7 linked regions of the Homo sapiens genome follow. The protein of the gene in region 4 interacts with the protein of the main gene of each other region in a pairwise test. Each region holds a gene or a part of one and is shown on either strand. Other genes may lie near its edges.

The links.
Region 1: the proteins of ATXN7 (region 4) and MATN2 interact in a two-hybrid assay, tested with the Homo sapiens proteins (one study listed by BioGRID and IntAct).
Region 2: the proteins of ATXN7 (region 4) and CRIM1 interact in a two-hybrid assay, tested with the Homo sapiens proteins (one study listed by BioGRID and IntAct).
Region 3: the proteins of ATXN7 (region 4) and AGRN interact in a two-hybrid assay, tested with the Homo sapiens proteins (one study listed by BioGRID and IntAct).
Region 5: the proteins of ATXN7 (region 4) and NELL2 interact in a two-hybrid assay, tested with the Homo sapiens proteins (one study listed by BioGRID and IntAct).
Region 6: the proteins of ATXN7 (region 4) and JAG2 interact in a two-hybrid assay, tested with the Homo sapiens proteins (one study listed by BioGRID and IntAct).
Region 7: the proteins of ATXN7 (region 4) and EFEMP1 interact in a two-hybrid assay, tested with the Homo sapiens proteins (one study listed by BioGRID and IntAct).

What each region holds. Positions count from the first base shown.
Region 1 is NC_000008.11:98,026,064-98,029,563, reverse strand, and holds part of MATN2 (matrilin-2 isoform a precursor), read right to left. Parts: intron 2,149-3,500; coding exon 1,735-2,148; intron 1-1,734.
Region 2 is NC_000002.12:36,439,278-36,442,777, reverse strand, and holds part of CRIM1 (cysteine-rich motor neuron 1 protein precursor), read right to left. Parts: intron 1,521-3,500; coding exon 1,278-1,520; intron 164-1,277; coding exon 43-163; intron 1-42. UniProt on the Homo sapiens protein: May play a role in CNS development by interacting with growth factors implicated in motor neuron differentiation and survival. May play a role in capillary formation and maintenance during angiogenesis.
Region 3 is NC_000001.11:1,023,120-1,026,619, reverse strand, and holds part of AGRN (agrin isoform 2 precursor), read right to left. Parts: intron 1-3,500. UniProt on the Homo sapiens protein: Isoform 1, isoform 4 and isoform 5: neuron-specific (z+) isoforms that contain C-terminal insertions of 8-19 AA are potent activators of AChR clustering.
Region 4 is NC_000003.12:63,866,867-63,870,366, forward strand, and holds part of ATXN7 (ataxin-7), read left to right. Parts: exon of another isoform or gene 1-47; intron 48-3,500. UniProt on the Homo sapiens protein: Acts as a component of the SAGA (aka STAGA) transcription coactivator-HAT complex. Mediates the interaction of SAGA complex with the CRX and is involved in CRX-dependent gene activation.
Region 5 is NC_000012.12:44,516,316-44,519,815, reverse strand, and holds part of NELL2 (protein kinase C-binding protein NELL2 isoform b precursor), read left to right. Parts: intron 1-3,500. UniProt on the Homo sapiens protein: Plays multiple roles in neural tissues, regulates neuronal proliferation, survival, differentiation, polarization, as well as axon guidance and synaptic functions.
Region 6 is NC_000014.9:105,155,277-105,158,776, forward strand, and holds part of JAG2 (protein jagged-2 isoform a precursor), read right to left. Parts: intron 2,488-3,500; coding exon 2,430-2,487; intron 714-2,429; coding exon 462-713; intron 347-461; coding exon 286-346; intron 1-285. UniProt on the Homo sapiens protein: Putative Notch ligand involved in the mediation of Notch signaling. Involved in limb development.
Region 7 is NC_000002.12:55,868,625-55,871,782, reverse strand, and holds part of EFEMP1 (EGF-containing fibulin-like extracellular matrix protein 1 precursor), read left to right. Parts: intron 1-659; coding exon 660-783; intron 784-867; coding exon 868-1,063; intron 1,064-3,158. UniProt on the Homo sapiens protein: Binds EGFR, the EGF receptor, inducing EGFR autophosphorylation and the activation of downstream signaling pathways. May play a role in cell adhesion and migration. May function as a negative regulator of chondrocyte differentiation.

The sequences.
Region 1 (3,500 bases), on a different chromosome or scaffold from region 4:
ACTATTTTAAGATTCTGTTTGCTATACATAAGACTAGTTAAATTCATAAGAGGATGTCACCTCATATAAATCTTGTTGATTCAAGAATCAAGTAAACATCAGTTTCTGCTACCACCTGTCTTTGTGTGATGTGTAGAGACATTTGAGTGGAGCAAAGGGTAAGGTAGATTAGTCTCAGTGAGATGAAAGGGCTAACCACTGTCTCTGGAGACTAAGATGCTTCCCCTAATTAATTCTTTTTAAGAATGCAGACTAGGGGGCCTATGAGTTTGACATGAGCTCTAGCAATCTAGGCTAGTGTGAACAGCCAGTTTTACAATCTATCCAGATGATTCAGGGCAGGACACTTTGTGGCTACCACTCTTGGGCTAGAAAAAGAGGAAGGTACGCAGTATCAATAAAATGACCTCCTTCACAAAGACAGCGAGTGAATGTCGATGTGAACCAGCCTTTCTGTGAGGAGGAATGGAGTTCACCAATGGGACTGCCAGTACTCTCACTTCTTTCTTCATTCACTCAGCAAGTAGTTGTCACACATCTACTGTGTGCCAGGCCTGATCTAGGCACTGGGTCCATAAAGTCTTAGATGAGGCCTTGATCTGTGCATACCTTATTTCCTCTTACAGGACTTGCTAAAGCAGTGTGTCCTCAACAAGTACTTTAAGAAGGCAGTTTTCGGCTGGGCACAGTGGCTCACGCCTATAATCCTAGCACTTTGGGAGGCTGAGGTGGGTGGATCATGAGGTCAGGAGATCGAGACCATCCTGGCTAACACGGTGAAACCCCATCTCCACTAAAAATACAAAAAAATTAGCTGGGCGTGGTGGCGGGCGCCTGTAGTACCCAATACTCAGGAGGCCGAGGCAGGAGAATAGCGTGAACCTGGGAGGCGGAGCTTGCAGTGAGCTGACATCGCGCCACTGCACTCCAGCCTCGGTGACAGAGCAAGCCTCCATCTCAAAAAAAAAAAGCAGTTTTCAAGCAAACTAGTTCACAACCTCAAGTTTTCTTATCTCCCTCAAGGAATCTAGAAACTTCACCATAAACTGTCTCTACCAATTATCCTACCTTTTGGGTTTCCTTTAGCCAAGGGTCATACTCCTCGAGCACGCTTCACATCTGTACAACTGAAGTAACCCTCAGGTCAGGAAAACCTCAGAGAAGAGGCTGGGCTTTACTGAGCAACAAGAGCTTAGAGTCATAATCTGTTCCATCATTTGATTTTCGGAAAAGCTAACTTTGCCTCCTGGAAACACAAGAGTATTATCCACCCTAGGGGCTATTGCATTTTCAGAATGCTCGCTTGAAGTATTGGTTAAAAAATACAAGAATAAATATACACAGTAAAAGTTCCCATCAGAAACAATTTAACAAAGTCTTCAGTTGATTCTAGAGCAAGCCGACCAGTGTTTCGGAACTATTGTGTATATCTAGGCGATTCTTACACTGGAGATCACACACTGGCTAGTAAATCACAGTGAGAGGATACCCGCCTGTGGTCAGCTTAGCCTACCCTTCTAGTAGCCAGACTCCTTCCTGAGCACTTTATTTAACTCCTGTGGGGTCCTGTTAAGGCTTCTAGGTGGCAGGGTAGTAAAGATGTATAATGGCAGTTGCCAGGAGGCCTTTCTGTACACTCAAAGAAGCTTACCCTTATGGCCAGCTGAGACCACTGAGTGAGTTTAAGAAACCTGAACCTTGAGTGGTGTAAACCGCACCTCCACCCCATATTACCATTGGCCTTGGCTTTACTGGCCCACTCGGAGACGTCATCCTGAGCCCGTCCGTCGGTGAACACAATGGCTGCTCTGGGCACCCTTGTGGAAAGGGGCCTGGCCCCTTCTCCTTGGGTAAAACTTCTCTCAAACATGTGTTTCAGGGCCAGCCCAGTCATAGAGCCCTTTCCCATGTATTTCATGTGGGCCACGGCTTTTTTCATGTCTTTGGCTGAGTTGAAGTTTCTCAGAGTGAACTCTGTGTGGACCTGTGTGGAATACTGGAGCAGCCCCACTCGAGCGGCTTTGGGGGAAATTGTCAAGGAATCTATAATTCCAGTGACAAACTGCTTCACGACCTCAAAATTCTCTTCTCCAAGACTCTTGGATCCATCGATCACAAAGACCAGGTCAATTGGGCCTTCAGTGCATTCTATATGAACAGAAGGAAAGTTGACATAGTTGAATAAAAAATCATTTATGCACAAGAGTAGAATAAAATGATGCTTCAATTGGAGGCATAACCACTTTGGGGAACCAGTTTTGTTCTTTAGATAATACACAGGATAGATGAGTTGTTGGGAGGGCCACAAGCAACAATAATTTTCACGTATACTTTTATGGTTGGCTTGTCATATTGATAAAAATAGTATTTTTCACAAGCAAAACGGCAGATATACAATTGTCTAGGAAACCAAGTCTACATTGTACCCTGGAACACTGACAGGTCTGGGAGGAGCTGGGTGTAGAGTACACTGAAGGGTCTAACAATACCCAAAAGACTCCTAGAACTTTAGGAGGGTGACATCACCCTAGTGCTGGCATTCTGACAGTCAATGGAGAAAGAGATTTCTTCAGCTCAGCCATCACCTCTGCTGGGGAGCCTTCCTAGTAACTCAGCTTGTATTGCTTTCTATATACCCCAAACACTACTAATTTATTCAACCAAAAATTTATTGAGGACCTGCTTTGTACAAGGCCATGGGCATAGCAGGATTGCAATAGTGACCAAGACACAATCCCTAACACCAAGCTGCATACAATCTAATGTACTCTATATAGTGTTCCACATTGTACAATAATTATTTAATGATGTGTTTCCTCCTCCAGTCTGTGAGTTCCTCCTCAGCAGGGACTGTGTTTCATTCATTTTTGTGCCCCACCCCCCAATACTTGGCACAAAAAAAGTGTTCAGTAAATGTGTGGTGACAGACTAAGTGAATGAGGTGATGTTCATTGGGTAGCACACCTGTAAGTACCCTACTGACCTATTAAAGCTTACAAAATAATTAGCCTTAGTGCAGTGGCTCACGCCTATAATCCCCAGTGCATTGGGAGGCTGAGGCAGGAGGATGGCTTGAGCACAGGAGTTCAAGAACACCCTGGGTAACAGAGTGACTGTCTTTCTTAAAAAAAGAAAAATTAGCTGGGCATGGTAGTGCATGCCTGTAGCCCTAGCTACTTGGGAGGCTGAGGCAGAAAGATTACCGGAGCCCAAGAATTACAGGTTGCAGTAAGCTATGATTGTGCCGCTGCACTTCAGTCTGGGTGACAGAGCAAGACCCTGCATCTCTCCGTAAAAAAAAAAAAAACAAAATTAAAAAAAAAGTTATCACCATAAATTCTTTACATGGAAGCTTTTCAGGCATTTTTTTTTTTTTTTTTTTTTTGAGATTGAGTCTTGCTCTGTTACCCAGGCTGAAGTGCAATGGTGTGATCTTGGCTCACTGCAACCTCCACTTCCTGGGTTCAAGTGATTCTCCTGCCTCAACCTCCCAAGTAGCC
Region 2 (3,500 bases), on a different chromosome or scaffold from region 4:
AACAAATGAGGAGAAAACTTGACAAACTAATGGCAAACTAACCTTGTTGGCAAAGTACAGCAACCATCTGCAGTTAGTCTGACTTGAGTTTCATAGCTGTCCGGGGGACACGCGGTCTGCTGAACAGGAGGGCATTCCACAGTCCTGCAGTCCACGCCGAAAACTGAAAGGGGCAAACAGAGAGGCACCGTTTATTGTTATATTTACTTGCTTTTGGAGTCCCTAAATGAAATACTAGCTCTTGACAAATGTCCAAAGTCTCCTTGCTTCCACAAACCCAGTCCTAGTGTCGACATGTTACTCCAGTTAATGCTATAGAACTGCAATATTCCTCAAATTTTCTGTGTAAGGAAAGAGGTGGGGATGAGATATTTAAGAGCTACAATGAAGACAGAGAAAGAATTAAACCAGCAGTGGTTACATGGATAGTGACAGTTAGCCAGAGGCATTTCTGATTGATAGAATAGTTCAAGAGACGGACAAAGGATCACTTTGCTTGGAGCGTTTATCTAGCAGTTAAAAAAAAAAAAGAAAGAAAGAAAAAGAAAAACCCAAACAAAAAAACAACTGGCCGATGATTAGAAACTTGCAAAGAGGAAATCGCTATAACTCAGAAGTGTTCACAGACCACATCGGAAATGCTGCCACAAGAGCAAGGATGTTAGAAATAATATAAAGCAAGAAACAGCTGGGATACAACAGTACATCAAATGTTGGCAAAGAGGGTGAGTAAACAGTCAAAGATGACTTGGCACATGCTATAAAGTAAAGAGGGCAGATGCGGGGGAATTGGCAAAGAGAAAGATTGGGGCTGAGTGTTGCATTATGAAACTTCTGGCGTTTTGATGCATGTATTCATCTAAAAATAACTTTCTGTTTTACGTATGATGATTGTTTTTAAATGTAATAATTCAAAGTGGCAGATATAGCTGCAAATAAGGTCTCTGACCTTCTCTGGGGAAATGAAGCAGATTGCCATAGTACCATAAATTTTAACCCTACCTCCCCAGTCAAGCATACTTTGAAGGAAAAAAAGAAGAAAAGAGGAAAAGACACGCTCGCTCTCCGAAGGCGCTTATGTACCAGTGGATGATCACTCTGGTTCTCTGACTAGAAGGCCAGAAGTCAAGCTGCCATTAGCCCAAAGTGGCAGATTCACAGGACACCGGTGAGAAGGCCCATCTTCGTGTGAAAGGAGAGGCCAGGGGTGGCTGAGGAGGGATCTGCTACCCTCTGATGCAAAGGAACAAGGCTGCTGAGACAGAGCTCGTGCATACCTGGTTTGCACTCATAGAGGTCACAGCACTCTCCCGGCTTCCCTGAGGCTTTTGACACTAGTATGTTCAGGTTTCCCGGCTGGCAGACTTTGCGCAGACAGCCTGCGGGGTTGCACACGCAGCGGCTGGGTAAGGGACAGCACTCCCCAGGAGGAGCATAACCCTCGATCAGAACAGAATCTTCAGGACAACGTGGAGAGAACTGGACTTCACAGCGGGCCTTGGAGCAATCTGGCTTCTCTTCTAAAAGGGAGAGAAAGAATTTAGCTTATGCCCAGGGCAGTGTGGGGCACTTTCAACAGAAGAACAAACAGTCCTGATGATCTATTTAAGTAGCCAAAGAGGACGGTAGGGAAAGAAATTCAGTGTAAACCTTCAAACTTAGTTTAACTAACAATGAAAACCTCACCCAAGATCTGCCCATGACACCAAAATATGAGCCTGAAATTCCCTTCTTCTCCGTCTCCCTACCCACTTGTGTTAAACAATGAACATCTGGAGCAATGACCAAAATGAAGAAAGCTGAAGGGAAGATGCACCCATGGCGTGGAGAATCTGAAAACTGGACCCATTCCTTGAGTAACTGAAAGATCTTTGAATTCAAAAGAGCTTTAAAGGCTGTTCTTTGAAAACAGTGTACCTTAAAACACAAACAAATCATGGCTACTTCAGAAACTGGAGACAATGTGTACGACAATCAACATGGAGGAACTCTACCTGCACACTCTGAGTTATCAATGGTATTCTATTAATAGTCTGTGACTTTACGATGTGGCAGCTTAGCAAGATGGATAATGAGCCAAATTCCCGTGTAATTTCCTGAAATGGCACCTGATGTGCTTCTATTTCTAGCAGAGCTCCATCAAATGCACCTTATTCCCCTCTGTCTAATATTATCTGCCGACCCATTGCTGTATCTCAATTTTAGAGATGCGAAAAATAAAACAATGTGGGTTTACTCAGATTTTACGATGGAGGAGCAAAGCCCTGGCTTCTGAAACCCCAGTCCACAGTTTAGCTTCTTGGGTTGAGTTTTAAGAGACCTATACGAACATAAGGCCCTTGAGGAAAAGATGGAAATAGACTAAAAGACATCATCCCAGCCCAGGACCTTTGGTGGGAGATGGGGAGTTCAGGAGACATTAGGTGAAATTGATGCCAGTTAGTACCAGGCAATGTTTCCGTAAGTGTTAATTGGTCTTCCTAAAGTAAAACCCAAACACAGAATTGGGTAGTAGGATAAGACCCAAAAGGTCACCTAGTTTAGTTTTCTCATTTTGTAGATAAAGAACGTCTGAGGCCCCAGAGCTTAAGTGACCTGGCTAAGGTCATTGGTAAACTTAAAGCAAGAATCCAGGTCACCTCATTCCAGTCCACTCAGGTCTTGATATCATAGCAGTGGATCTCTTTTTAAAACCATGCCTGTTCCTCTAGTCATTTTCTACCTTGATTGCTGTATCTTTCCTCTTCCTTATCTATTTCTTGTCTACCTAAGACATAATATAGGAGACTCTTCATACTTATAGTTCTAGTAAATTCACTGAAACATTGACTGAGCACCTGTTGCTTCAGCAGCTTGGGATATGTCAGTAAAGAGGAAAGACACAGGTTCCTGACCTTGTTAGTTGATATGGTGGTGGAGGATGACAGAACATAAGTAACAAACATTATAAAGAAGCAAATTATATAGTAGTAAAGGGTGATATGTGCTATGAGGGGAAAACAAGAACAGAGTAAGAGGGAATTGGAATGCTTAGAAGAAGTGGGTAGCAGTTACAATGTGGTGAGAATGGATGGGCATGATTGAGAAGTTTACGGCTGAACAAAGACTTGAAGGAGTGAGGGGACGAGCCACGGAGATACTTTGGAGAAGAGCATCCCAGCAGAAGGAACTGCTGACGCAGGCTTGTGTGTCCCAGGAAGAGTAAGAACGTCAGTGTGGCTGAGGCACAGTGAGAGGACAAACAGGAGATGAGGTTGGATGAGCAGCAGGGGTACCTGGCGATTTAGAACCCCTTATGCCATTTTCAAGACTGTACCGTTCACTATGGGACAAATTAGAGATTTGATTATATAGAAAGAGGAAGAGAATAATTCAGAAAAACAGGTCCCTTCTTAGAAAGATAGGACTTTGGGAACCTGGGCAACAACAGGAAGGCACACAATATCTGGGGAGGAAGGAGACGTGGGAGGAGGTTGGAAAGGCACTTGGCAAGAAAGAAT
Region 3 (3,500 bases), on a different chromosome or scaffold from region 4:
GCCCCACCCAGGCCGCTGGTGGGGCTGTGGACCTGGGTCCCACAGGTGGAAGCAAAGCCCTGGGCGTGGGGCGTCTGCTTCTGCAGTTGTTTTCCACCCTCCTGCAGTGATGGGGGCAGAGTCAGCCCTTCAGGAAGGAAGCTGCATGGGCCTGGCTGGAATGACCTCTGGCCGGACCTGTGGCCCCGAGGCACGGGCACCCCCTTCCCTGGAGCAGCCCCATCCCGCCTTCTGCAGGCTGTGGGGCTAATGATTCCCTCTCCTGATCTTGCAGGGACAGGAACCTGTCCTCACCCTAACCTCCTTCTCCCCTACCTTGGCCTGGAGGCTGCAGCAGGTGCCATCCCCACCACCACCCACAGAGGCCCCACCAGAGCGGCCAGTGTGGACAAGCGGGAGCGAGCCCAGTTCCAAAACAACCTTCCCTCTCTAGTCTGCAGGAACAATGGAGCCAGGGCTGTTCTCTGGGTGGGGAGTGAGGGAGTGGGGTGGGGTCTGGAAAAAGCCAAGAGTTCCTTCCACCAGCTCAGCCCGGCCCTCTCAAAGAGGTCATCTCCACAGAACTGACCAACCCGATTCCCCTACCCCTCCCACCACCTCACTCCCTTTGGTTTCAGCCAGCAAAGCCCCCCCCCAGGCCAAGGCAGGGGCAAGCCCAGGAGAAGTCAAAGACGGGACAAGTCCATTCACGCAGGCGGGAAGCACCGAGCCCCGACTTCCCACCAGGAGCCCCGGGGTTGGGATGGACAGAGGTGGGCCCTTCACCCGGCAGACCCCCCTCCCAGCTCCAGGAGAAACAGAGGTGGGGCCCCAACTTCCTACCAGGAGCCCCTGGGTGGGGAGACACAGAGGTGAGTGGGGAGGGACAGAGGTAGGCCCTCCGCCCTCCCACCCGGCAGACCCCCTCCCAGCTGCAGGAGGGAGATTGGGGCAGCAGCCTCGAGCCCAGACCTGCCTGGGGGAGGGCCAGAGAGGGGCTCATGGGGTGGGGGTGGGGGAACCAGGGGGCAGGATGAGAACCTGGAGTCAGGAGGGGGCAGGAGAGGGTGGCAGGAATGCGGAGGAGTTGGGGGCAGGAGCTGAGCCCTGGGCAGGAGAGGGGGCTGGCCCCAGCCCTATGGGAGGTCCTCCTGCATCCCAGAAACCTCCCCCAACTCCTAGACTGCCCCACACTGAGGGGAGCCTGGTCTGGGGCTGTCGGGCCCCTCAACCCCAGCACCGATGCTGTCCCCGGTGCCGTGGGACTCTGGGCTTCCCCTAGGACTGCCGTCCTGAGGCCTAGGCAGCTGGCCAGGCAGGGAGGAAGGGAGGGTGCACACGCCGGAATACAGGCGGGCCCGGGACTAGGCCGCCGGGACCCCGGGCTTCAGAGCTGGGCAGGGCCGGGCTGGGAAGGCGCCAGACTCACTCTGACCCTGGCCCCCTGCCCTGTCCCTGTGCCAGGCCCCGGCAGGGGCAGACAACACTCCCTTTCTCTGCTCCTGGCTCCTAGCAGGGAGGGATGGGCCCCGGGCGGCCTGGCCGGCCCTCAGCCAGGAGTCCCTCCTGGGGGCTTCAGGGAGGCTCTAGGACCAGCCTTTGTGAGGTGGGCTGGGAGGGCATGGGCAGTGCCCAGACAGGACAGGGTGGCGAGGGCCGGAGGAGTCGCCCGCTCAGCCGCCAGCCCTGGGCAGCTGGCACTGCGGAGGCCAGGCCACTTCCCTGACAAAGCAGGGGCGGGGGTCTCCTTCCGGAGGGAGCAGCGGGCCTCCCCCGCCCAAAGGTGGCGCAGAGGGAGGGACACATACCTGTCTTAGTTATGCCAGGAATGTGGCTCCCTAGGCAGAGAAGGGGGGAGGAGCCTTTCTGAGGGTTGTTGACTGGGGGAGGGGCCTTGGCTGGGCAGGGCCAGGAAGATCTGGCAGGGCCAGGTGAGAAACTGAGGAAAGGAAGTCCTCAGTAGAGCTGAGTCCAGGTGTGGCCCAGCAGCAGGTGCACCTCAGGCGGTGTCCGGGCAGGGGTGGTGAGGGGCGTGGCCCTCCCCGACCTGGGGAGCTCGGAGGGGCCTTTGTCTCCAGGATGGGGTTCCCATACAAGGTGGGACCCTGTGGTCTCAGGGGTAGCTTCTGAAGACTAGGGGCTGCCCAGACGCCATCCTGTGCCCTGGGAGGTGGGGTCGGAGTCAGATGGGGAGAGGTCAGCTAGGCTCAAGCTCCCTCCATCCATCCCCCTCACTAGGGTGAGGCCTTGGCTACCAGAGGGCCCAGGGTGGGGTTCAATGTCCTTATCTCCTACAGAGCAGGAGATGGACCCACCTCCCACACCACCCAGTGTGAGGGGAGGGGTGGGCACACAGAATTGTCCCTTCTCCAGCCAGACTGGCTCCAGAGACCTTGTCCCTCAGGGCTCACCCCAGGCTTCTGGGAGGCATTTACCCTGTCCCGGCAGCCAGGGACCCCAGCCACCCGAGATATCCCTGGTCTACTTCCACAGCAGAGCTCCACATGTCCCACCGGAAGCTCCTGGGCTCCCCCACTCCTCATGCTGTTTCCCTCCTGAGGCTCCCCTTGGCCCCTGGCTCACCTGCAAGGCCCCTCCCATGACAGTCCTCCCTGGCTAACCCTCCCCTGGCCAGCCCCACCCCAGGGGGTCCGGTGGCCACAGCCCCTCCCGGGTGCTCCCCAAGCTGCATACTGGCTGTGGGTCCCAGGCTCCCCACCTGGAGCTCGTCCCTGAGTGCGACTGCCCACAGCTGGGCTAAGCCACACCCACCTGGCAGGGGCTCCCCACGGACCCTCCTCCCAGCGCTCTGCTCCGCCTGGGCACTCGCTCCAGAGCCAGTGCCTGGCACCCGTAGAGCGGCTTCGGTAAGATGCAGAGCCTCGTTCAGCCGGGGTGACTCTCCTGCCATGTGCCCTCTGACCCTAGAGCAAGTCCTCAGCTACTAAGTCACGGACTCTCGGGCTGGACCCACCTGGCTGTGGGGTTAGTGACCCCCTCTCCTGATCTTGCAGGGACAGGAACCTCTCCTCGCCCTAACCCCCTTCTCCAGCCCCTCCTCAGCTCCTGACAGCCTATCCTGAGTCCACGATGCCCCCATCTTTTCCCCAGACCATGAGTGCCCAGAAGAGGACCAAGGTTATCATGTCCTCCCAGTGGGGGACCCAGGGGACCCTCCTCTGTGCTGCACTGAGGCCCTGGACCCTGAAGGCAGCTTGGGGACCACTGACCACAGGCTGGGGAAAAGGCCGCAGCGTTCCTTATTTTGGGTGCTGCCCCTCCCCCTGCATAGCCCCCAGGCATGCACAGAGAAGGCAAGAGCAGTGGACAGTCCAGGACCCCACAAGGACCCCTCAAGAGCCAGGCTAGTGTCAGGGCAGCAAAGTTTCCTGCCGGCCAACGGAGCAGATCGGAGAGACGGGAAGTCAGGACCCTTACCGTTGCCTTGAGGAGGAAGCACTCTCCAGACCCCCCCACCGACACATCCCTTCCCAGGCAGCCATGAGGGAGCAGACAGGATG
Region 4 (3,500 bases):
AAATGGAAGTAGCAGATTTTAAGAAAACTGATTCAGACTTTGAACTTGTATGACCTTATATTTATTGATTTATTTGAGTCATAAGATTTCTGGGTTTTTTTTTTTTTGAGAATATGAAAGACTAGTTAAGAAAATTTGTGTGTTTATTTGATATTTGCTTTCTGAAAATATAAAAAATTATGAGAGAGCTAGCTATATATGGTCTTTATTCTGGGTCTGTGAAATAATGTAAGGAATTTTGTACTATGCTTTTAGAGCAAGAGTTATCCTGGGGGTCTGTGACCCTCCAAGGGTTGGTTTCAAGGGATTCCTGAACTCCCTGTAGTTGTGACCAGAACTTTTTGTGTATGTGTATTTTTCTGGAAGAGGGTCTGTAGTTGTTTTAGAAAAGAGATCCAGGACTTAAAAAAATTAGAGACACATCTTTTTATTGAATAAAATGGAAGTTAGAATTCTTTTCTTTTCTTTCTTCTTTTTTCCTTTTTCTTTTGAAACAGGGTCTCACTTTGTTGCCCAGTCTGGAATGCAATTGCATGAAACTGGCTCACTGCATCCTTGACCTCCTGGGCTCAAGTGATCCTCCTGCCACAGCCTCCCAGAGTGCTGGGATTACAGTCATGAGCCATCACAGAATGACCATTCTAAAGAGAAAAAAACATTTTTGAAAAGTAGATCTGTGTGCTCGTTACTTGCCTTTTAAAGTTATCTTCAGGCTGGGCACAGTGGCTTATGCCTGTAATCCCAGCACTTTGAGAGGCCAAGGCGGGTGGATCATTTGAGGTAGGCCGAGGCGGGTGGATCATTTGAGGTCAGAAATTCAAGAGCAGCCTGGCCAACATGGTGAAACCCCATCTCTACCAAAAATACAAAAAAAATTATCTAGGCGTGGTGGTGTGGCCTGTAATCCCAGCTACTCAGGAGGCTGAGGCAGGAGAATCACTTGAACCCAGGAGGCTGAGGTTGCAGTGAGCCGAGATCACTACACTCTAGCCTGGGCAACAGAGTAAGACACTGAAATAAATAAATAAATAACAAACAAATAAATAAATAAAGTTGTCTTCAGACTTAGAGGTGTAAAAGCACTTCCATTTTATTCCCACAACAAAGCATTGCCTATCAGTTGATAAGCCAAGCTGGTCTGACGTGCTAGTCCTGCATGTACTGTGGCTGTGTTTTTAAAAAATTATATCTAAAAATTCAGACCAGATCGTTTGATGGTAGATAAGCAAAGATTTGATCTTGACACCAGCCGTTGGAGTAAATGGGTCTTTCAGCTCCACTCTCTTCTCTCCAGAAAATTTGAAATTTGACTCAAAGGGAATCATTGTAAGAAAATGTGTTTGTGCCTTGGCAGGACAGTAGAACATGATGGGAAAAACACAGTTTGAGTCAAAATAGACTTAAAATTCAAATTTGGTTTCCTTTATTCACTGTAGCTACTTACCCTGCTTGACTCTTCAGTTACTCATCTGGATATGGCTAACTAGTAGAGTTGTTGGGAGGCTAGCTAGAAGTTTCCCGTATAAAAGTCTTAGCTCCTCTTTGGCCCGCAAGAAGGACTTACAAGCCAGGTTTGGGGAACCATTAATAAACATCTGAGGAAACATGTATATTCATGGTATAGGATAATAAGTACATTATTTCCAAATTGGTGTGATGAAGATATTAACACTTAAAACATTGTTTTTTAAGAAAAAGATTTTCAAAAATGAGTTAGGATTGAGTGGTCCCCAAATATAGATATTTAGAGGAAAGTGGAAAATGATGGTTTATTTGGCAGAGGGGAGGACATGGATGCTGCTGGGCAGGAAGAAATGATAGCCACCCACCAGCATTATATTTCTCTCTGTGGGCAAGATTCCATTTAACATTTTCTCTTCACTTATAATCTGAATTAAAAAACTAAAATACTGCACATGTACTTTATAGTCCATCACCCCTAAAAGTGCTTCAGCACTCCTTTCGTTTTGAGACCTTCACAGGTAACCCAGGGACTTCATGGGTGGAAGTTACACTTATAACTTTAGTTGTCTAATTCTGCTGTCTTTAAAATGCCTTCACAGTTGGGTACCTGTGTTGATTTTTGTCAATAGGAAAGGGTCTGGCAGGACTGAATCATATTTTACTTTAAATGCTGAAGTAAGAGAGGGCATTATGAGTCAAAAGAAAGTGTGAGATACGTAAATAAAATACTGTATAATGCTTATGGCCATAAAAATAAACTTGCTTCTACTATTTCTATAGTCTTAACCTTTCCTGTCATTTATTCGTGGTGATCATTTATGCTTTCTGCCCTTGGGTTGGGAAATGGTTATGAACACAGCCTTTAGGCTTTGAATATGGCCTTGATTCTCATTTCCTGAGCTCTCTGGTTGTGTTCAACTTGGTCCAGTCTCCTTCTTTGAGTCTAGAGGAGATGACCATTAAATGGGATAATAAATGCAAAAAAGTTTTGCTTACTCCTAGGCTCCTAGTAAGTACTCAGAAAGTGGTAGCCATTTTGAAGACAGTTACATTCTCATCTTTAGAAGGAGATATCATACATCTTTTTCTTTTCTTTTCTTTTTGTTTTTTTTTGAGACAGAGGCTCATTGTTGCCAAGGCTGGAGTGCAGTGGCATGATCTTGGCTCACTGCAACTCCTGCCTCCCAGGGTTCAAGCTATTCTCGTGCCTCAGCCTCCCTAGTAGCTGGGATTACAGGCATGTGCCACTACGCCCAGCTCATTTTTGTATTTTTAGTAGAGATGGGGTTTCGCCATGCTGGCCAGGCTGATCCTGAGCTCCTGACCTCAGGTGATCCACCTGCCTCGGCCTCCCAAAGTGCTGGGATTACAGCTGTGAGCTACCGCACCCTGCTAGAGATACTATACATCCTTTTAAAGAGAATACCTTTATTCATCCTTATTCCCACTTAGACCTTCTGGAACCATCTTACTTTCAACTCAGAAAAGCCTTTTACATTTTCTTGTTATGATAGGCAGGTATCCCAACATCTTGATGACCTATTGGACTTCTCCATTGTTCTTAGCCAATGGGGTTGCATTCTCTATTGGCCTGGCAGGTTATATCAAAATCTTGGATATGTCAGGGGCCAAACCAACAAGCCTGCACAGGTTTGGAGCTGTGATCCATCAAACAACTGTGTGATTTTATAGCCTGGAACAGAGATCAGCAAATTTTCTGTAAAGGACCATATAGTAAATATTGTTTACTTTGCCAGCCATCCAGGTCTCTACACCTACTCAGCTCTGCCATGATAGCAGGAAAACACTCATAGATATAAATGAATGGGTATGACTGTGTTCCAAGAAATGTTGATGAACACTGACATTTGAATTTCATGCAATTTTTATGTGTCACGTCATATTTTATTTTTTCAACCATTTAAAAATGTGAAAGTCATTCTTAGCTCCTGTTATATACAAATCTTAGCTAGATTTGGTCCATGGGCCATAATTTGCAGAATCCTTGCCTAGAATATTAGATGCATAGATTTGTG
Region 5 (3,500 bases), on a different chromosome or scaffold from region 4:
TTCAAGGATAGTGCATGGACTAAAACCAGAATGATCCGTTATTTATATCACCAACATAGAAACAAGCTACTTAAATTGTCCTAGATATCTAACCGTACACATCTTTTAAAAAAGCTGAAACAACAAACCTCATGTTTCTTCTTTCATGATAGGAGACAATATTGTTTTATTGATTTTTAGCTGGTTCTTTTACAAGGTCCGTAAGATACATAAGTGAAGTAGATTTATTACATTTTCCAAAGTGGAAATCAATATGGCAAAGATGGGCATATTTCTTGGTTTGTTGTGGTCAGTTACATTGAGTTGAAACATTTAAGATCTGTTTTTTACCATATTTTATTCATACAGTTGGAGAAAAACCATTACAAAGCTCTTTCTCCTTATTCTCATTGGAAAATAGAGCTCTGTGCCTTTTGCTTCAATGAGAGCACAAATACAATGAATATAGGCAGAGCATATAGAGTTTGTAGATTAGTGACAATGTTGGAAGCATTCTAATTTGATTATTATTTCTACAAAAATTTAATTTTGTGGCCATTATGCTTTATAGTCATAATTTTGTAATCAACACTAAAACTAAATAAATAACCTGAAGGCTTAACAGTAACAACTAAATAGCAGACGTGTCAGATTTTTCTCAGCATAACATAGCCAGATATCTGTAACTGCTCTGATTTTTTTAAGTGAGCATTTCCATTTTGTAATTTTTTTCCTACAGAGCAATTTAATTCAGATTCACTTACTACAAATTCTTACCAGAGTAGATTGAAGTAACAGGACAAAGAAATATAAAATGCTTTAAGCTTTGAGATGCCATTTTTATCTATTTCAAGCTCAAATTTCTAGTTCTTTCAATCAATGCAATTTGTCAATCAAGCAAAGCTTTTTGAGTGAACATTTACTGCTGTTTTATGAAATGCATTAGCAAATTTAAAAGTTACTATTACTAAAAGTTACTAATAATGTATATGCGATGTTCCTTTAATATACATTTAATATGTGTATACTTAATAGTGCATATCTTGAAACTTAGCACTAATGACTAACAGGGAAATACTTTCTGTCATTTAATTACCAAATAGAGTTGAGTCCTCTTACACCCTTAATCTTTCTGTGAGATTATTCTTCTGAGCAATAGTGACAAAAATATATATTGAGTGATGGACAAAAATGAAATATAGCACAGATGGATATTTCCAGTAAGAAAAATGCATACAGTAATAGGCAGGAAAACAACTCAGACTGTTTTCTGGGGTAAAGAATTTGAATGAGGCCGGGCACGGTGGCTCACGCCTGTAATCCCAGCATTTTGGGAGGCTGAGGTGGGCGGATCACAAGGTCAGGAGATCGAGACCATCCTGGCTAACACGGTGAAACCCCGTCTCTACTAAAAAATACAAAAAATTAGCCAGGCATGGTGGTGGGTGCCTGTAGTCCCAGCTACTCAGGAGGCTGAGGTAGGAGAATGGCGTGAACCCGGGAGGTGGAGCTTGCAGTGAGCTGAGATTGTGCCACTGCCCTCCAGCCTGGGCAACAGAGCGAGACTCCATCTCAGAAAAAAAAAAAAAAAGTATTTGAATGAGTTTGTCATTCACTACCTTATAAACAACTACTATAATCTCTCAGCTTTTGATAGGAATATATTCCAGAAAGTGTATTTTGATATTAAAGTCATTTCTTTCTGTCAGATAAGTACTGATTCATAGAAGTTACTATTAAATACTATTTTCTTTATCTCTTGTTATTAAATATGAGTCATAAAAATATGCTCAGTTTTGTCAAATTTATCTCAAGTACTCATTTTTATTACATTTATTTTGTGTTATTTTGAAAATAAAGTTTATGCAAAACAAGCTTCAAGTATTGCATTAGAGGTAAGCATTCTTCACAATTTAGTGCTTTGAAAGCACTATTTTATTTATTATGTCTCCATTCTACTCCCCTCTGAGTTATTTGTTTCTAATTGATAAATACACACCGTGTGGGGCATTGTGCTGGTACCAGGTGTATAATGATAAGCAAAACCAGACACAGTCACCCTTGGAAATTATTCTCTATCAGCTTATTATCTGGCACTCTGTTGTTCAATATGCTAGTCAGTAGCCACATGTGGCTATTTAAATTTTAATTAATTAAAATTAAATAATATGAAAATTTTAATTTATTAGTTACACTAGCCACATTTCAACTGCACAATAGCCACATGTGGCTACTGGCTGTCATATTAGATAGCACACTGTGTAAGGCCATTCTTGCATTGCTATAAAGAAATACTTGAGCTTGGGTAATTTACAAAGAAAAGGGGTTTAATTGGCTTACAGTTCTGCAGGGTCTATAGGAAACAGTACCATGGTCTGCTTCGGGGAAGGCATTTCACATGGCAAGAGTGGGAACGAGAGAGAGAGAGAGAGAGAGAGAGAGAGAGAGAGAGAGAGAGAGAGAGAAAGTAGTTGGTGGGTAGGTACCAGACATTTGTAAATGTTGCCTTTATCTATCAAAAACTACAAACTTGAAGTTGTGCCAGTGGACCTCTGTTCTAACATTAGAATAGATAACTCGATCTAAGGAAAAAATACCTATAAATAAGCAATATTATAATAAAGCTTTTAATATATGATCAGGACTTTGCAGATCAATGGAGGAAGAAAACATTATTTCACAAATAATGGAATGACTAAATAACAATTTGAGGGAAATAACACACAGTTATAAAAATTATGTTACATATCAAAACAAATTCCACATGGAAAAAGTGTTAAATATTAAAATAAATTAAAATAAAGAAAATATAATTAAATATTTATCAAAACTCTAGAAGGGAGATACTTTTTAAAATTTATCAGTGATAAAATATACCTGAAAGAAAAGATTAGTGCTTCTATAGATACATAAAATTAGCAAAAAAAAAAAAAAAGTCACAACTACATACTAGAAAAACAGCTTCAGCAGATTTGGTTTCTTTGTTAGATTAAAAACATAAACATTAATAAGAAAAGCACTTACTGCTGGGTGCAGAGGCTCATACCTATAATCCCAACTGCTCAGAAGGCCCACTTGAGCCTAGGCGTTCAAGGCTGCAGTCAGCCATGATCATGCCACTGCACTCCACCTTGGGTGACAAAGTAAGACCTTGCCTCTAAAACTTTTTTGGAAAGCAATTATTTCCCCCATAAATAAATCTGCAAAGGATAAATAAACAACTCACTAAAAAAGTACACCTACTAAAATAAAAGAGGAAATCATTGAGCCTTTAAATAATTGAACCTTAATTGTAAACTAAAATTATAAATAATTATTTTCACATACTATAGTAAAAAAGTTTCTCCTAATAATTTCTAATGCTGACAGAGATATACTGGAATTATTATTTTTGTGCACTGTTAATATCATTAAAAAATACACAATGCAACACATACTATCCGCACCCCCATATACACACACAAATATATTGTTCTCTTTAATCCCAGGTCTGAGAATCTAACCTAAAGAAATAATCAAAG
Region 6 (3,500 bases), on a different chromosome or scaffold from region 4:
TGGCTTGCAGCCTCCGGGTCTCTGCCCCTCGGTGACGTGACTGTCCAGCCAGCCTCCCCAGTCTCTCCTCACTGTCCTCACATGGCTGCCGCCATCAGACACATCCCATGCTCAGACACGCACCTACTGCACTAAGGAGCCTCCCGAGCTCAGGGCCCGGCTCTCACAGCTGTGTGCCCAACCTCCAGCCAGCTCCGGGCGACTCCTGACAGCAAGGCTGTGTGTGCCAGTGAGGACGTGAGGGCAAAGGTTGGGAGGGCAAAGACGGGCCGGCGGCACACTCACCTGCACTCCCCAGGCACGGTGCATCCCCCGTGGAGCAAATTACACCCTTGTTTACACACAGCTGCGAACAGAGAGGAGCGAGAGGCACAGCTGCAGCCAGCCTGGCCGCAAGGCCTGTGCCCGGGGCCCTGCCCGAGGCCCTCCCTGCCCTCCACGCAGCCCAGCGGCCCCCTCACCTTCCTTGCACTCCTTGCCCATCCAGCCGTCCATGCAGGCCTTGTTGCCGTACTGGTCGCAGGTGTAGTGGCCGAAAAAGTCGTTGCGGGGCCGGCAGAACTTGTTGCAAGTGGCGCTGTAGTAGTTCTCGTCGCAGCGCACGCGGATCTGCAGCTCCAGGTGCGCCACGTGGCCGCTGAAGTGCAGGCTCTTCCAGCGGTCCTCCGGGTTGATCATGCCGGCATGCGACACTCGCTCGATCAGCAGCTCCTCTTGGGGAGGCGGCAGAGTCAGCACAGGCCAGAGAAACCAGCCCGGCCAGGGGTCCTCCAGGAACAACGGGGACGGGGCAGAAGCCTGCGGCTGCTGCAAGGCCGGGGCACAGCAGGCAGCAGCACACGGAGGGCAGGGCCCCCGGCCAGGCTGCTACAGAAAGCTCAGGGCCCCGAGAGGCCTCTCCCTCCCGCCACCAAGCCTGCGCCCCGCTCCCACCCTAAACGCAGAGGGTCGGGGGGCCCGGCTAGGGGCTAGGGGCCCTGCAGGGAGGGCTGCTGAGACCACAGGCTCCACAGAGAAGGCACGGCTGCTGCCAGGGCGTGAGTCTCACGTCCCACACCTGTGCCCACCCACCTGCAGCCCTGCTCCAACACCTGCACCCACCTGCGCCGTGTCCAGCCCTCGACAGCACGGACATGGTGCTCAGTTGCCCTCCCCTCTCCTGCGCTGTGACTTGCTCCCAGAAGTGCCAAACACCACTACCGTCCCCACCTTAAGACAAGCCTCCCCTCAGGCCCCCAAGACAGGCATAGGTCCCGTGACCCGCTGTCTAAGCCTCACTTTAAGTAAGCCACCAGGAGACCAGGGGCCAGGGGCACCACAGCTGCTGGCGCTGGTATGCAAAGTCCGTGATGCCGGTCCCTGCGCTTAGGCACAGGCTCGACGTTTTGCACAATAAAAGGTGAACGGGTCCTCCAGACCCCACCTCTCCCGCCTCGGGCCAAGGCCTGGGAGGACACTGTGCTGGCCCACTCCCCAAGGGGCGTCCCGGCCGCCCCAGCCTCTCCAGGCTCACGTTGTCAAGAGCCCTGACGACCTTGCTTGGGACTCAGCCCACCTGTCTCTCTGCCACCCCCTCAGGAAACACCCCTGCCCTGAGCCGCTGGGGTCCCCACAACTGCTGCTCCCCACCTGGGCACCCCCACCGCCGTCCCTGCCCTGAAAACAGCCCCTCCACTCTGCTGGCAGCCAGGATGCCCTGGCCCCGCTCTCCCTCCTCCAACCCATTGGCCAACCCCATGCCTCCACTTCTGAGAGCCCCTCTCACCCCCAGACTGCCCCTGGTCCAAGTCACCCTGACACGCCCAGATTCACGTGGCAGCTCCTCCTCGGTCTGTGTCCTGGCCCCACAGCCCACCCTCCATAAGGCAGCCACAGCTTGCCAGGCGGAGCCCGTGTCCTCTCAGTGGCTTGCCAGCCTCCATGATCTGAGCCCAGCCCCGGCTGCTCCCCCTGCACAGCCAGCCCGCTCCTGCCCAGACCTTCACACGAGCTGCTCCCTTGGCCTGTGGGTGCTTCTGCATTCACCCATGGAAGTCATCCCGTTACCCCTGCAGGGCCCTGCAGAGCCCCTGCCTCAGGGAGAGGGCCACCAAGGCTCCATGCTCCAGTACAGACAAGCAGAGGGGGCCACAAAGCCAGAGACACACTCAAGGGTGTCCCCTCCACTAAGTCACTGCCATGGGCCCCAAAAGAGCACACCCAAGAGGAGAACAACATAGGCAAAGCCAGGACTGGGGAAGAGAGTGCATGCACAGCTCTGCAAGTCCCAAACGTGGCAGAGCTTCCTGGCAGCCAAAGCAAAAAGGGAAACAGCACACATGATCCTCAGGGTAAAGCAAGGCTTTGTCCCAAGCAGACAGAGGAGCTGGGCCCTGCCACAGGCACGCTGAAGCTGAGAGGAGCTGCCACCTGGCCCAGGGCTCACTCACCATTCGGGGTGGTATCGTTGTCCCAGTCCCAGGCCTCCACGATGAGGGTAAAGGAGCGCTGCAGACATGGGGAGGCGGGTCAGGTACCTGAGGCCACACCTGCCTGCCTCGTTCAGGGTGGGACAAGGCCCAGGGCTCAGACGCTGCCCCTGGGTCTGCCAGGCTCTGGCCCTTCCTCCCCAGCCAGGGACCCACCACCCTCCTCATCCTCAGGCCACATCCTCTGCAGACCCAAAAATGACCCAGCTCAAGGGAGGGAGACTGCCCCTCCAGGCCACGCGGGCTCAGGGGCCTGGGCTCCCTACCGTTGGGGTGCCAGAGGCCCAGCCTGCCCTGAGCTGGCTCAAGTCAGCACGGAGCACAGGAAGAGCGACCGGGGGGAGAGGTGGGCAAAGGGCAGCCTGGCTGGAGTGGCCACAGACAGGGGCCCCATGGGCAGCCGGGACCCGAGCGTTTCCTGTGGAACGCCCCTTGGTGCCTCACTGGGGGTGACCACGGGGGAGAACGTGGGGCCCCATCACCACGCTGGCGGCCTCCACCAAGTGCACGGGGTGGCCAAGTACAGGGCGCCCAGCCAGAGGCCCCAACAGGCCGGAGCTCAGGTCCTGCAGGCATACAGCACACAGGCAAACCCACACCTACCTCCACCCTCACACAGAACAGGTGGCAGGAGGGGCCCTTGCGGTACAGTTGGGGAAACTGAGGCCAAGAGGTCCTGGGACTGCCCAGCACAGCCTCAGACCATGGCCACTATGCCCCCTCTGCCCCCGGGCCACCTGGCCCTTGTACCCCAGCCATGGCGACAGGCGATGCTGTCAGCCAAGCAAAGAGACCACAGGGCTGGCCCCCTGCTCCGCCTAGTGCAGCCCACGGAGACCGTCACTCACAGACATGCTCAGACAGGTGGGACCCCCGGGACATGCCCTGTACTACCCAGCACTGGGTACCCACATTCCACAGCCTCTCAGCCCTCACTGCCCAGGAACCCCCCAGTCTACCCCTGGTGTGCTCTTGACCCCTGAGCCCAGCCCTGGCTCCTTCCAGGTGGGGCCCAGAGGAGGGGGCTGGGGC
Region 7 (3,158 bases), on a different chromosome or scaffold from region 4:
GTATAATCCACTCCCAGCATGCTTCAGCTTACTGAAACCAGATTTCTAGCCTTTACCTTTCTCCCAAGTTCCTGAAAGAGATGATAAGCTGCCCTCCATAGTTTATGCTTCCTGATTTCTCAGCTTGGAAAGCCTTCCCTGCCCCAGCCATGAAAACTCCATCTAACCACCACCCTTCAAGGCCACGTTGAGATGCCTCTTCCTTCCTTCAGCCTTCCCTAATCCCCCTGGCAAAATTACCCAACTCTGCTCCACATGCCCCAGTATACTTATCTATCTCTTACTTAATTCCATTTTACTTTCTAAGTAATCATATACACATTCCCTCAATTATAATGTCCCTGATGACAAGAACTGGTGTTTAACTTTTATATAGGCAGAGTCAGTGGTTAACATTGGGGTTTGAATTCAACAGATGAACAATAGGTGCTTGATAAAATATCATGAAATGACACATATTAATCTGCCTAGAATGTCTCAGCTCTGTCTGTCCTGAATTCAATACAATGAACACCCAGTCTTGTGTCTAAAAGCAGGTTGAACACAGTCCAGATGCTCTCACACCTCCTTCCTTGCAAACAGAATCTGCCAGTTATATGATTTAATTAGATCAGTTCATTAGTTTAGTTAGTAAACTCTTTGACCCTACATCTCTACAGATATAAATGAGTGTGAGACCACAAATGAATGCCGGGAGGATGAAATGTGTTGGAATTATCATGGCGGCTTCCGTTGTTATCCACGAAATCCTTGTCAAGATCCCTACATTCTAACACCAGAGAAGTAAGAAAAATCAGAACTTTTGAAAGTGAGGATTTTCTGGTCTTACCAAGCCAAACTGCTGAATACTTTTGTTTGTCTCTGCAGCCGATGTGTTTGCCCAGTCTCAAATGCCATGTGCCGAGAACTGCCCCAGTCAATAGTCTACAAATACATGAGCATCCGATCTGATAGGTCTGTGCCATCAGACATCTTCCAGATACAGGCCACAACTATTTATGCCAACACCATCAATACTTTTCGGATTAAATCTGGAAATGAAAATGGAGAGTTCTACCTACGAGTAAGTATCCTGAAGGCAGCCTTAACTATTGAGAAAGATGGGAGTTTGTTGTTGTTGTTGTTGTTGTTGTTGTTGTGTGGTATCCACATGTGGAAGGAAAGCAAACATTTAAAGTGTCTTATGTGTAGGCATTGTGTAAGGCCTTCCAGCTACATTATTTCATTTATTCCTCTTGGTAACACTGCCAGATAGATATTAATATTCATCTCCATTTTTTACAGAGGAGAAAAGTGAGATGCAGAAAGATTAAGTAGCATCCCTGAAATCACTCAAATATTAAGTTTGGCAGACTCTGATAGAGTTGTGTGTGACCACGAAAATACAAGCCTCCCATCCCCCCGCCTCTGCCCCCACCCAACATACCCCCCAAGTAGGTATCACTAATCATTGATGGTTAATTAATTATACATAGACATACATATAATTCAAACCCAAAATAATTCCTGGAGCTCCTAAAGAGTTTTTCAGACATCATGAATTCATCATTGTTACATTCACAAGACAGTTTGTGTTCACACCGAAACTAAAACCTATAAGTATGTGAGAAGTGACCCCACCTCCCCGCACAGTATGTGTCAGTAGTTGTACCATTCTTGCCAACTTCTGGGCTGGCAGTATGGAGTCATCTCCCTATCTTTCATTGCCTGTGTGAAATCTACTTTCTGAATTCTGCCATTTCCCTCTTCACACTGTCTCCTGGGTTATCTTTGCTTCCTCACATCCCTATCTCTCTTCCTATAAACTGGCTCCCGTCACTTCCATGATCCCTTCAGTGGCTTCTGAGCTGGTCTCCCTGACCCCAAAGCCTCAGCCTTCCAGTCTCCCTACAAAATCTCAGCAAGTTCATTTTAGGTTAAAATTTGGACATATTTTAAATACGGCTCACCACTTCATGTGAAAATGATGGCACCCTACCAAGCAGTTTGCAGAGTTACGGTAACTGTTTCATGCTAATGATGTTATTCATCCAGTTACAATTTTCTCAAAACTCCTTTGGGCACTCTTTATTTTTAATCAAATTTTAAAGCCAATATTTCATTTTGAGAATATGAATTAAATTGGGAAATTCATCCTTGTGGTACAGTTTACAGATTTTTAATGTTTACCCATTTATCCTGTTTTTTGATATATTAATTTCCCATATAGCTCCAGAGTTATGTGATATTATTTCTTTGCCAGTATATTAGAAAATGATTAATTTCTCATGACCAACTTCTGAAAAGAAAGACCCAATGCAAAATGCAATCTATTACAATTATTTTTTTGAATAAAAAAGAATATATTATAGTTCTTTAACATTTGATATTTTAAATTTGACATATTCTTGATATTTGTAAGAAATTTCCACTGAATGAATTTTACACAATTCAGATACTACCAATTAACTAATTCTAGCCTAAACAAATAACATTATTTTTAAATAACAAAATCTTTAAAAATAATTTTCTATTTTGAACTTTTAGCCATAATGTAAGAAAATAAAATTTTCTAGCAGAATAATCAAAGAGTGAAACAAAGTTCCAACATGTTTTTTCTTTGCAATTAAACATGGCACTTTTACAGTTATTTATTATTCATATCAGTGCACTTACCGACTTCATATTTTCAAATCAAAATACAGTGTTTTTCTCCAGTGAAATCCTTATTCTCATGACTGATAGAAAACATTGCCAATTTTGATATTTCCAGAGTTAATGTTAAATTATTTGAAAGAAAATTATTTAAAATAATAAAAATAGACATTTCAAGACTATTTCTTATCACATAATTCAAAAAGTACTTGGATCAAATCCTACAGAGTTTCTCCACTAAAATTCTACTTGTGCAGAGGGCATTGAAACGCATGAAAATCAACAGCAGGTTAGTTAGGTTAATTAATTCGGTTAATTAAGCACCTACTACATGCTCAGCTCTATGCTAGGTGTCATGAGGAATTAAAAGGACATGTAATGCACATTTTCTGATTTCAAGGAGCTTTAAATATTATTGTGTAGAAAAAGTTAACATCTATGAAAATAGAAGTGGGGCAATTTTGTGCTTAATTCCATGGTCCAGATACATCAAAAAATCAATGTGGGCTGTCAAAGAAGGTTTC